Regions from separate parts of the Homo sapiens genome. Here region 2 is linked to region 1. The links come from fine-mapping of genetic effects on gene expression. A gene starts in region 1. The other region holds a variant in brackets. All regions are shown on one strand. Distances are from middle to middle.

Region 1 (4,395 bases):
GCAACCATGGGCAGCATTTTTTTTTTTAAGTTCCAATCCTTCAAAAGGAGCTCTCCAAATGATTTTACCATTTCATCTCTTTTGGTGAGAGATTTAAAATTAAAACATCATTTTCCATAGAATGGCAACATGAAGACAGATGGTTTACTATGTAGCAAAAATAGTTCTCCCTGCCAGAATATCTCCTTTTTGATTGTCCCCATTTAGTCTCGGTTCTCCTATGACACATTCTTGGAGGTTTCTGTTCTTTAACTGAAACTCATCAAGCCAAGGTGACTAAAAGCTAATGTTCCCAGTGAGAATGGGAAGATTCATATCGTCTTAGAGTTGAAAGACCTGTGGATGTCATCAGGTCAAACAATCCACTACTAACTGAATCCTCTTCTCAATGGCTCTGAGCAGTGATCTCTAGCTTTAGCTTTGTCGCTTCCCAGTGAGTAAGAATTTTTGTCTAATTTCTGATGATTATCTTTGCCTTTGTGAATAGTGCAAATGATTAGAAAGATCTTCCTTGGAAATCAACTAGTAACCTCTCTTTCTGTGAGATCCTCTCTTCAGAAGAGGAATAGGAGAATGTTTAGGAGCAGAGCTGGGCACTACACACACCTCCCTTCAATCCTAGCTCTGATAGTGGCCAGCTGTGAGACCTTAGCAAGTCTGTAAAATGTGGATGCTGGTGCCTAATTCATTATTCCCTTAACAAGATTAGCACAATGCCCAGCACACTGGTGCTCAATGTGTGTTAGCAATTATCAATCAAGTATGCTTTAGGGAGGTAATGCAGTCAGGGGCAGGTGAGTGTGAAATTCAGTCCCCTTCTTCATCTTATTGTATAGGCAGTATCTCATAATGGCAATGAGAGCTCTATTGCCAGGCTAAGGAGGCTTAATTAAATATGGGCCTGGTGTATACATTAACAGGGCACCTACCTCAAAAAGTGCAGGGGAGTTTGAATGAGTCAATCCATGCAAAAGGCTTGGAGAGTGCCTGGCACCTAGGTGGCCATCTTGATAACCACAAGGATTTACTGAGCACTTGCTCTGGGGTCAGGCTTTGGGGACAGACAGTGATGAGGCCAAGTCTCAGCCCCCTGGGAAACACATTCCGGCGGGAAAGAGGCTGAAACAGGGAAACTGTGGCAAATGATACCAGCGAGGGCTAGGTCCCTGACACAAGGAAACCCAAGGAAGCATTTGGCTTAAGCGGTGACAATATCCCTCTCCTCAGATGCCAAGGTCAAGGCGAGCCGCGGCAACACCATCTCCCCAGACACACACGCAAAATCGGCCCTTCTCGGGGAAAGGGCAGGGGCTGAAGGGGGAGGCGGGGTGGGCGGCGGCTGGAAAAAAGTGAAATTTCCTCTCCTCCTAAAATAAGTCATTGGAGCGAGGAGAGCGAGCGCTATCTCAGTAGGCTGTGGGCGAGGTGCGGGGGTGGCGGGGGCACGCTCCGGGTCCGCCAGGAGGGGAGGGATCGGAAGGGGAAGCGGGGAGGGAAAGGTGGGTGGGAGGCGCGGGGAGCGTTCCAGGGCGGCTGCTCACGGGTGGCCGCAGCCCAGTGCTGGGACTCGCGCGGCTCCTCCTCTTAGCCCCCCACCCCTTCCTCCTCTTTCCTCCTCCTCCTTCCTCCTCCTCCTCCTCCTTCTTCTCCTCCTTCTCGGCCGGGAGGAGGCAGGGCTGGATCCCTCAGCCGCCGCCGCTCCTCCTCCTGGCAGGCCGGCCGCGGAGTCAGCTGACGCCGGCGCTCCAGCCTCGCCTCCCCGCGCCGCGCTCTGCGCTCCCCGAAAGTGGCTGCAAGCCGGCCGCCCACTGTCAGGGTTGGGGGGACAGAGAAAGTGATGTGCGCCTTCTAAAGCCTCGCCCAGCGCCGCCGAAGCAGCTTCACCTCTCCAACTTTCTCCCACCGACTGCTTGTCTTGACCCTGCCCTCCACCCTCCCCAGAGCCACTTCGGGTGCGCGCTCTTGGGTAAAGGGGGGGTCACCGGCTGTCTGGGATGGCTTCCAATTTTAATGACATAGTGAAGCAAGGGTACGTGAGGATCCGGAGCAGACGCCTCGGGGTGAGTATCGATCCTCTCCGTGTTGCTGTTCGCCGGTTCGATTGTCTCTCTCTTGAGCCAGCATCCCTGGAGGGTGGACGGAGAGTCCCCGGCCGCGCGCCGGAGAATTGCGCGGTGGCTTTCTCAGCCGAAACCCGCGTCTCCGGGGCTGTCACTGTAAGGCCAGCGTCTAGGTATGTAATGGATCTATCTTTATCTCTTGGATGACTTGGCTTTCTGATGGTGGCCGCGTGTTGGGCTTCAGTAGCCCCTGGAGCCCATCTACTCGAAATAAATATTTCTCGGTAGCCATGGAAGTTGGAGCTGAGAAGCCCGGGCGGGGGTGCCTGCCGGATGCCCCCGGTTCCCCTCTTTTCCCACTCGCCGCCAACTTAACTTTTCCGGGGGATGGATCGGCTGGTTGAGAAAGAGGACACGCATACTCGGTGTGAACGAGGTCACGAACCCTCTGACCCCAGGGAGAGATTTCTGCCAAGCGTAAGGTGTCTTTGGATCCCCCCACCTCTGTCCCAGGTGTCGTGTCAAAGGCGGTGCGGGCTGGCCTCTGGTCGGGGCCAACTTGGGTAGATACTTGAATCTGGATTTTCCGTGGTTCGAAGCCGGGGTGGTGGATTTCTGTTGCTGGAATACACCCTGGAGGTCCACGGAAGGGTTATTTACGTGGAACCTGATACCTGGCATAGCGCAAGTGCTCCCTACATATGTCCTGAAAGGAAGAATGAATGAATCTTAGGGCACTTGGGACAGATGTTGACACAGGCTAGCTCCTTCCTTAAAACTCCCTCTCTTTCGCCCCTTTCTCTCTTGGCTCTTCGCTGGAGGAGGCTTCAAAAGAGAACCTACCCTTCCTCTCCTTGGGACTGAATGATGGTGGAAGAATTCTTGAGGGAGAGGGAAGATACTGGAACGATTTTTTTATTTCCTAAAAATTTCAAACTAGGTCCCTCATTTCTCTTTGCCTCCTATCAAGTGTTGTCGCTGTTTTAGTTGATCCTGTGCGTTTGGACATAAGGGGTGAAAAGTGGGGGTGGAGAGGTGGCGGGGGCGGGGGGAGAAAATATCCTTTGGTGTAATGCCTGAAATAAGTATAATGTCAGTAATCGTGTGGAATGCCGCCATTGATAATGAGTGGTAAATTGAATAGCTTTCTTTAGAAATATGTGTCATTTGGCATCTTTCTCTTACTTGGTCTTTGGACTGTTTTAATGTGCCAGATACTTTTACTGAAAACTGAAAAGAAATTTCACAGTAGTAAACTCAGCTAGGGAGGGAAGCCCTGTGGGGAGGAACATCCGCAATTATTATAAAACTCTTGCCTAATTCGTTTTGGTCTTTTTCTTTTCTTTTTCTCCCCTGCTGGTGACCATGTTTTAGCGATTATGTCCTGTGTTATTGTGAATATATACATATGTAATTAGGGAGAAATGTAACAGAATTCACCATTTCCATCAGCTCTGCCAAAGTTTCCTTGGTTTTCTTTTCTGCTATGCAAATATTCTCATCTTCAAGAGCACCCATTGTTGGGGGTACTTTACTGAGTGACTCCCATGTAAGGGGCAAACAATAATGGGAACTTTCTATTTTTGGTATGCTTATAGGCTGGCCAAGTGTTACAATTTTAAGGGGAGTTAAGTTAAAAAAAAAAAAAACCCAGCATTCTAATTTAGCTTTACTCCATCATGTCAATGGAAGGAATTGGTATGAGACATCCATTCTGTGTTAGGGAGCATTCCAATGGGAAGAGGACATGCATTATTAATGCACAAAATATGAATTATTCATAAGGATCAGAGTTTATGCCAAATTGTGACACATGGTAATTTATTTGAAAAACTGGTTACCATCACTTTCTTGTTTGTGGTAACTGAGATTATTTTTTCTAGATTATTACAATTGACACAACATAGCCCTATGTGTGTGCCAACATTTATGGACAGATATTTGAAGCAGAAGGAACAGAAATATTTAGTTTGTATTTGTTTTATGTTTTACAGCATTTTGGATGCTAATGAGCAGTATACTTTCTCAAGATTTATTCTTTTTGTCTGTGTTCACGTTCAGACTTCAGAATATCTATTGAATTATGGTTATTGCTCATGGAGAGAAAAGGTCAAAAATATGATCAAGTAAATCTGGTCTTATTTGTTAGCATTGGTTTTCTCACCAGTTAATTTTTAAAATATTCTTATGGTATGATTTACAAAAGAGGCTGATTACATAGTTGCCAGAACACAGTGCAAACCAAAGTTTTAATGGAGGCTGCAAATATTGGTGAAGGATGCTGTACGGAATTGGCATGGGGACCCTATGTCCACAGTAAGGAATGTTAGCGGTA
Region 2 (4,395 bases), 180 kb before region 1:
CTTGTTAAAATGCAGGTGCTGTCTCAGGCTTCCTGGATCAGAATCTGCATTTTAATATGATCTCCAGGTGATTTGGATGCGCATAAAAGTTTTTAAAGTATTTCTCTGGAAATTCTGACTCCCTCTCCCCACCTAACCCACAGATATATCTCTAGCTGGATGAGTTGCGTGTTTTAAGCATGAACCAGCCTCACCACTCAGTACTGTGAATTTATAAGTATTAGTTCTATTGCAATCTCCTTGAGAGGTAGGTCTCCTTTTCATTAATTTACCCTTAGCAATTAGTATTGTAGCACATAGCACATTGTAAACCCTCTCTAAATACTGGTTGACTGGCTGAATGGATCTGAATTTCCCAACATCATTAGCTCTATACAATTTAGCATCGAGCTGGATTTTTCCAATGAGGCAAACACGTTCTCATGAAGCTCTTCAAAGACACACAAGGAGAAGGTTCTAACACATGGGCCTGATGAATTATGTGTTTTTGATGACTCATTAAAGGAAGAGGGAGAGGTGAAACCAAGGGTTACTCTATTCCAGGAGGCAGCGTTGTGTAATGATAAACACACACATTTTGATGCCTCCAAAGTCTAGGCTCAAATCCTGGTTCTGTTCCCTACCAGCTTTATAGTATTGTGCCAAATTTCTCTGAGCCTCAGTTTCCTCATCTCTCAAGTGGGAAATATAATAAGCTTATGCCTTAGCTTGGATTTCCCTGAAAGCAAATTCTGAGATAGGGATTTGGGTGAAGATAGTTTATGGGGGCAGGGAGGGATGGAGGATCCTTGGTATTGAGAATGAAGTAGTGGGAAGAGTAAACAAAGGACTAAGAAAAGTCATAAGCATTTTGATCAAGAACCTGCTGAGAAACATAGGGAATGCCTCCCAGAATGGTTCATTAGAAGGATGGGAGGTAGGTCCCCCATTGGTTGAGGGGTGTCCTCAACAGTAGTAATTCCTTCGCAATGGCTTGTCCCAGGTGAGCCTGTTCTCAGGAGGCAGAAGCAGAAACTGGGGTGCTTGAGGTGCACCTGAGACTGAACAAAGCTGGCCTCTGCAGCTGCAGATGAACTCAGAGGTCACAGCACCATCAATGTCTGTTACAGCTTTCCAAGAGGATCCAGTGAAATCACATTTGCAAAGCCAGGTATCACAAGTGCTCGAAAAATGCTAGGAGTGTCACCCACTCAGTGCTGCTTTGGGGAGCTTCAGTTTCACTCCTCACTTTCGAGAAGTGCAAACAATTCTGTTGACACTTTCCCATCCTTGCATTCTCTCTCCTTCCTCTTCTTCTCACTCTGTATGCCCTCAAATAAGAATAAATCTTGTCTGGATGGCAATAAGAAGCAAATCTAATCAGATTTGGGAGATGTGGTCAAAGCTCAGAGAATAAACGGTTATACAGATCCTTTCCCGTTCCGTTTCTGTTTCCAGCCTGCCATTTTTACCTCACTGCAAAGAGAAAATGGAATTGATGGAGATATAGGAAAAATATGTATGTATGTGTGTATAGATACAAACCAATATATCTATATATATTTACATTGGTACCCAGTAAGAGTGAAAACTCTAAATGGTTGTTGTCAGGGACAATGTGTGTTTTCCCAGATTTTGTTCTGTGAATTGAAACCGACTTTGCTATTATAAATGCATCACTATAATTGCCCTGATTTAGCCTGGCAGTTATGACTCCTGCTCAGAGCCAAATGTCTCCCAGCCAAGACCCAGTGAGCTTGCCAAATTGTTTCACCTCTTTTATTGTCAGAACTCATCGCCCCTCCTCACACTGTTGTGCTTTTCTATAATATTTTAGGTATATTAATCATAAATCCTGGAATTGTTTATCTACAAAAAATTGAAGTCAGG[G/A]AGTCATGGAATAGTCATTTATCATGGGCTTTGGCTCAGTGACTTGAAACTAAAAGTAGAAGAAAAACAAAAGCACTGATTGTGTAGAGGTGGCCAAATGCCTGGAGGTTAAGTGAAATGAAATTAAAGAAAAAAGAAGTCCTCTCTGATCCTTAGCAGAAATTATTCACTTTCTGAAAGAAGCTTTTTCTCTATTGAGACTTCTATTTGGAAATGTATATTATAGATTTTTTTTTGCCTGTTAATCTGCTAAATGTTCATTTAACAATAGAAAATGTTTGATAATAAAACCATTGCTTTTTCTGATAGAGGTACTTCAATTATGAGGATTTTATAAACGTGTTCTAAGTATTCAATGCTTAATAGTGGGGTTGCTATACTATTGGGTGAGATATCAACCTGGTGTGCTGGCAGACTTACTTCTACACAGAAAGAGACTTTTTGAGAATGAAGCCAATACAAGCAAAACAGAGCCTAGATGTTGATGACACCTGATGGTCCTGGATACAACCATGCCTGAAGCTGGTTTTCCTGCTGCATGAGCTAATATTCCAGCTTTTACTTAACCCATTTTTAGCCAAATTTCTATAACTTGCCCTTAAAAGTCCTAATTAATACATTTGTCCAGCATGTCACCTGCTTTTATCATTTTTAAGACAAAAGTTATCTAACTCAGCCTGAAATGTAAAATCTCAAAGAAAAGTGCGTTGAATATGTGCTGCTGAAATGTGTGCTTCCATCATTAAAAAAATCCACCTGACATTTCAATTTAAATAATGGACTTACAGCTTTCATTAATATTTAAAATAGCCTTGTATGTTTTGCAAGATTAAAAGTGATACAAGCAGAATCAGGGTTATTATTTAACAGGACAGGTGACTTTGTTTATTTAATATTATAATAAATGTTATTAAATATTGAGATAAGAACATTTAACATGAGATCTATCCACTTAGGGAATTTTTAAGTTTACAATACACCATTGTTGGCTATGGGACAGTGTTGTAGATTATATCTCTAGAACTGTCCCATCTTAATTAACTGAAATTTGTGCCCAACTTTCCCACTTCCCTCTTCTCCAAGTCCCTCATTCCAGTCTTTGACTCTGTGAATTTGTAGTTGTAAAACACACTAAAAAGTTATCACAGGCATTTTAATGTTCTGGAGGCTTGACCAACATCTGCTGCATGTCTAGGTATTTCTGAAGTCATCTCTAAAAAGGTAAAACTTGGAAATAATCCTATTTCAGTAGAGTAATTGACATCTTGCAGATATTATAATAGAGCAGAGAAGTGGGATCAAGTTATCAAAATGTACTTGGCATATTTTATTGATCGTTTTTTTCCTGGTTTAAAAACTGAGAAAAGGAAGCCCAGGTGTTTGTAAACAACATTTCATGTGACCCATCTCCATATATACCACCTTCTGGTAGCTTCCACACATTTGATCTACTCATGCCTTTTCCATACCCCACCAAGGTCATTTAGTAAAGAGAAGGAGAGATTTGGAGTGTGCAATCACAAGTGTGGATAGTGAGAAGTGATTAATAGAAGTAGGTAGGCAAAATGCATCTTCTGTAAAAGGGATGTGGAGCTGTTGTAGAGTTGTTCTCTAGTTTACACCTTAACAAATAGCAGTTTAGAGATTGCTTGTGGGGGTTGTTAGTGTGTTAGGTTATAGGATTAGCTATGTTGTTGTGGCGATTTGCTTAATTAATGGCAACAACTGGATGTTGAAATTGGGTGGTAGTTTGAATGTTTGGTAGCACATGATTCTATCGTGGAGAGTGTTTATGCTTTTAAATGATGATGTTTTAAAAAGGCAAAATCCTGACCTTCATGCAAATACAAAATGAAGATGTGTCAAAGATTTTCTTTCATTTATTAATTGATAAGGGAATCAATAAGATGTTACAACTGGTGCAAAGGAGAATCCAAAGAACAGACAAATATATAGCTCATCAAATGCTGAAATGAATTTCTTTAGTAAATACAAAACTAGTCAATATCCACTGGACAATAATCAATGGCATGCCACCAAATATAGTTGGCATTCCTGTGGACAAGAGTCATTTCCATTCCTCTTAGTTTTTAGCTCAAAGACAATGAAACATGGAGATAACCTTGATGTATGAGCTGGACAAGGAATCTACTAATCTTAATTTTGTTCCTAATGGAAAATCTTTCACATGTCTTCATAATGTCTCAGCACAAGATGCTTCTTTTATGGGAAATTTTGTCTTGCTATCATGTTTAGAATAAAATCCCAACTCCTTAGCATGACCACAGAAACTTTACAATGCGAGTCTTTCCTATCTTCCTGATCTTATATCTAACATCTTCCCACTTCTTTCCCTGCCACTTCCTACTCACTTTTTTCCCCTTTGCCTTGAATGTCAGAAACCTCCCAGAGTTGAGCACCTGGTGTATTAGTCCGTTCTCACACTGCTATAAGGACATACCTGAGACTCAGTAACTTATAAAGGAAAGAGGTTTAATTGACTCACAGTTCAGCATGGCTGGAGAG

Direction of the effects. Alleles are on the strand shown, and positions count from the first base shown. SD is a standard deviation of normalised expression in the study named.
As copies of G replace A in region 2, the expression in subcutaneous fat of the gene that starts at base 1,641 in region 1 goes down (moderate effect, 0.44 SD a copy in GTEx).

What was found. PIP is the estimated chance that this variant, and not a neighbour inherited with it, causes the effect.
Region 2: its variant is the best candidate, but not a certain one, in a credible set for the expression of DOK5 in subcutaneous fat (GTEx, PIP 0.88).

Annotation. Positions count from the first base shown.
Region 1 is chr20:54,473,953-54,478,347 of GRCh38, forward strand. DOK5 (docking protein 5) reads left to right here and starts at 1,641. Exons shown (of 8, transcript NM_018431.5): 1 at 1,641-2,060. The coding sequence starts at 1,995.
Region 2 is chr20:54,291,894-54,296,288 of GRCh38, forward strand. No RefSeq gene overlaps it. Among named protein-coding and RNA genes, the nearest start is that of PFDN4, 86 kb to the left of the region's middle. The variant G/A (reference allele first, on the strand shown) is at 1,870.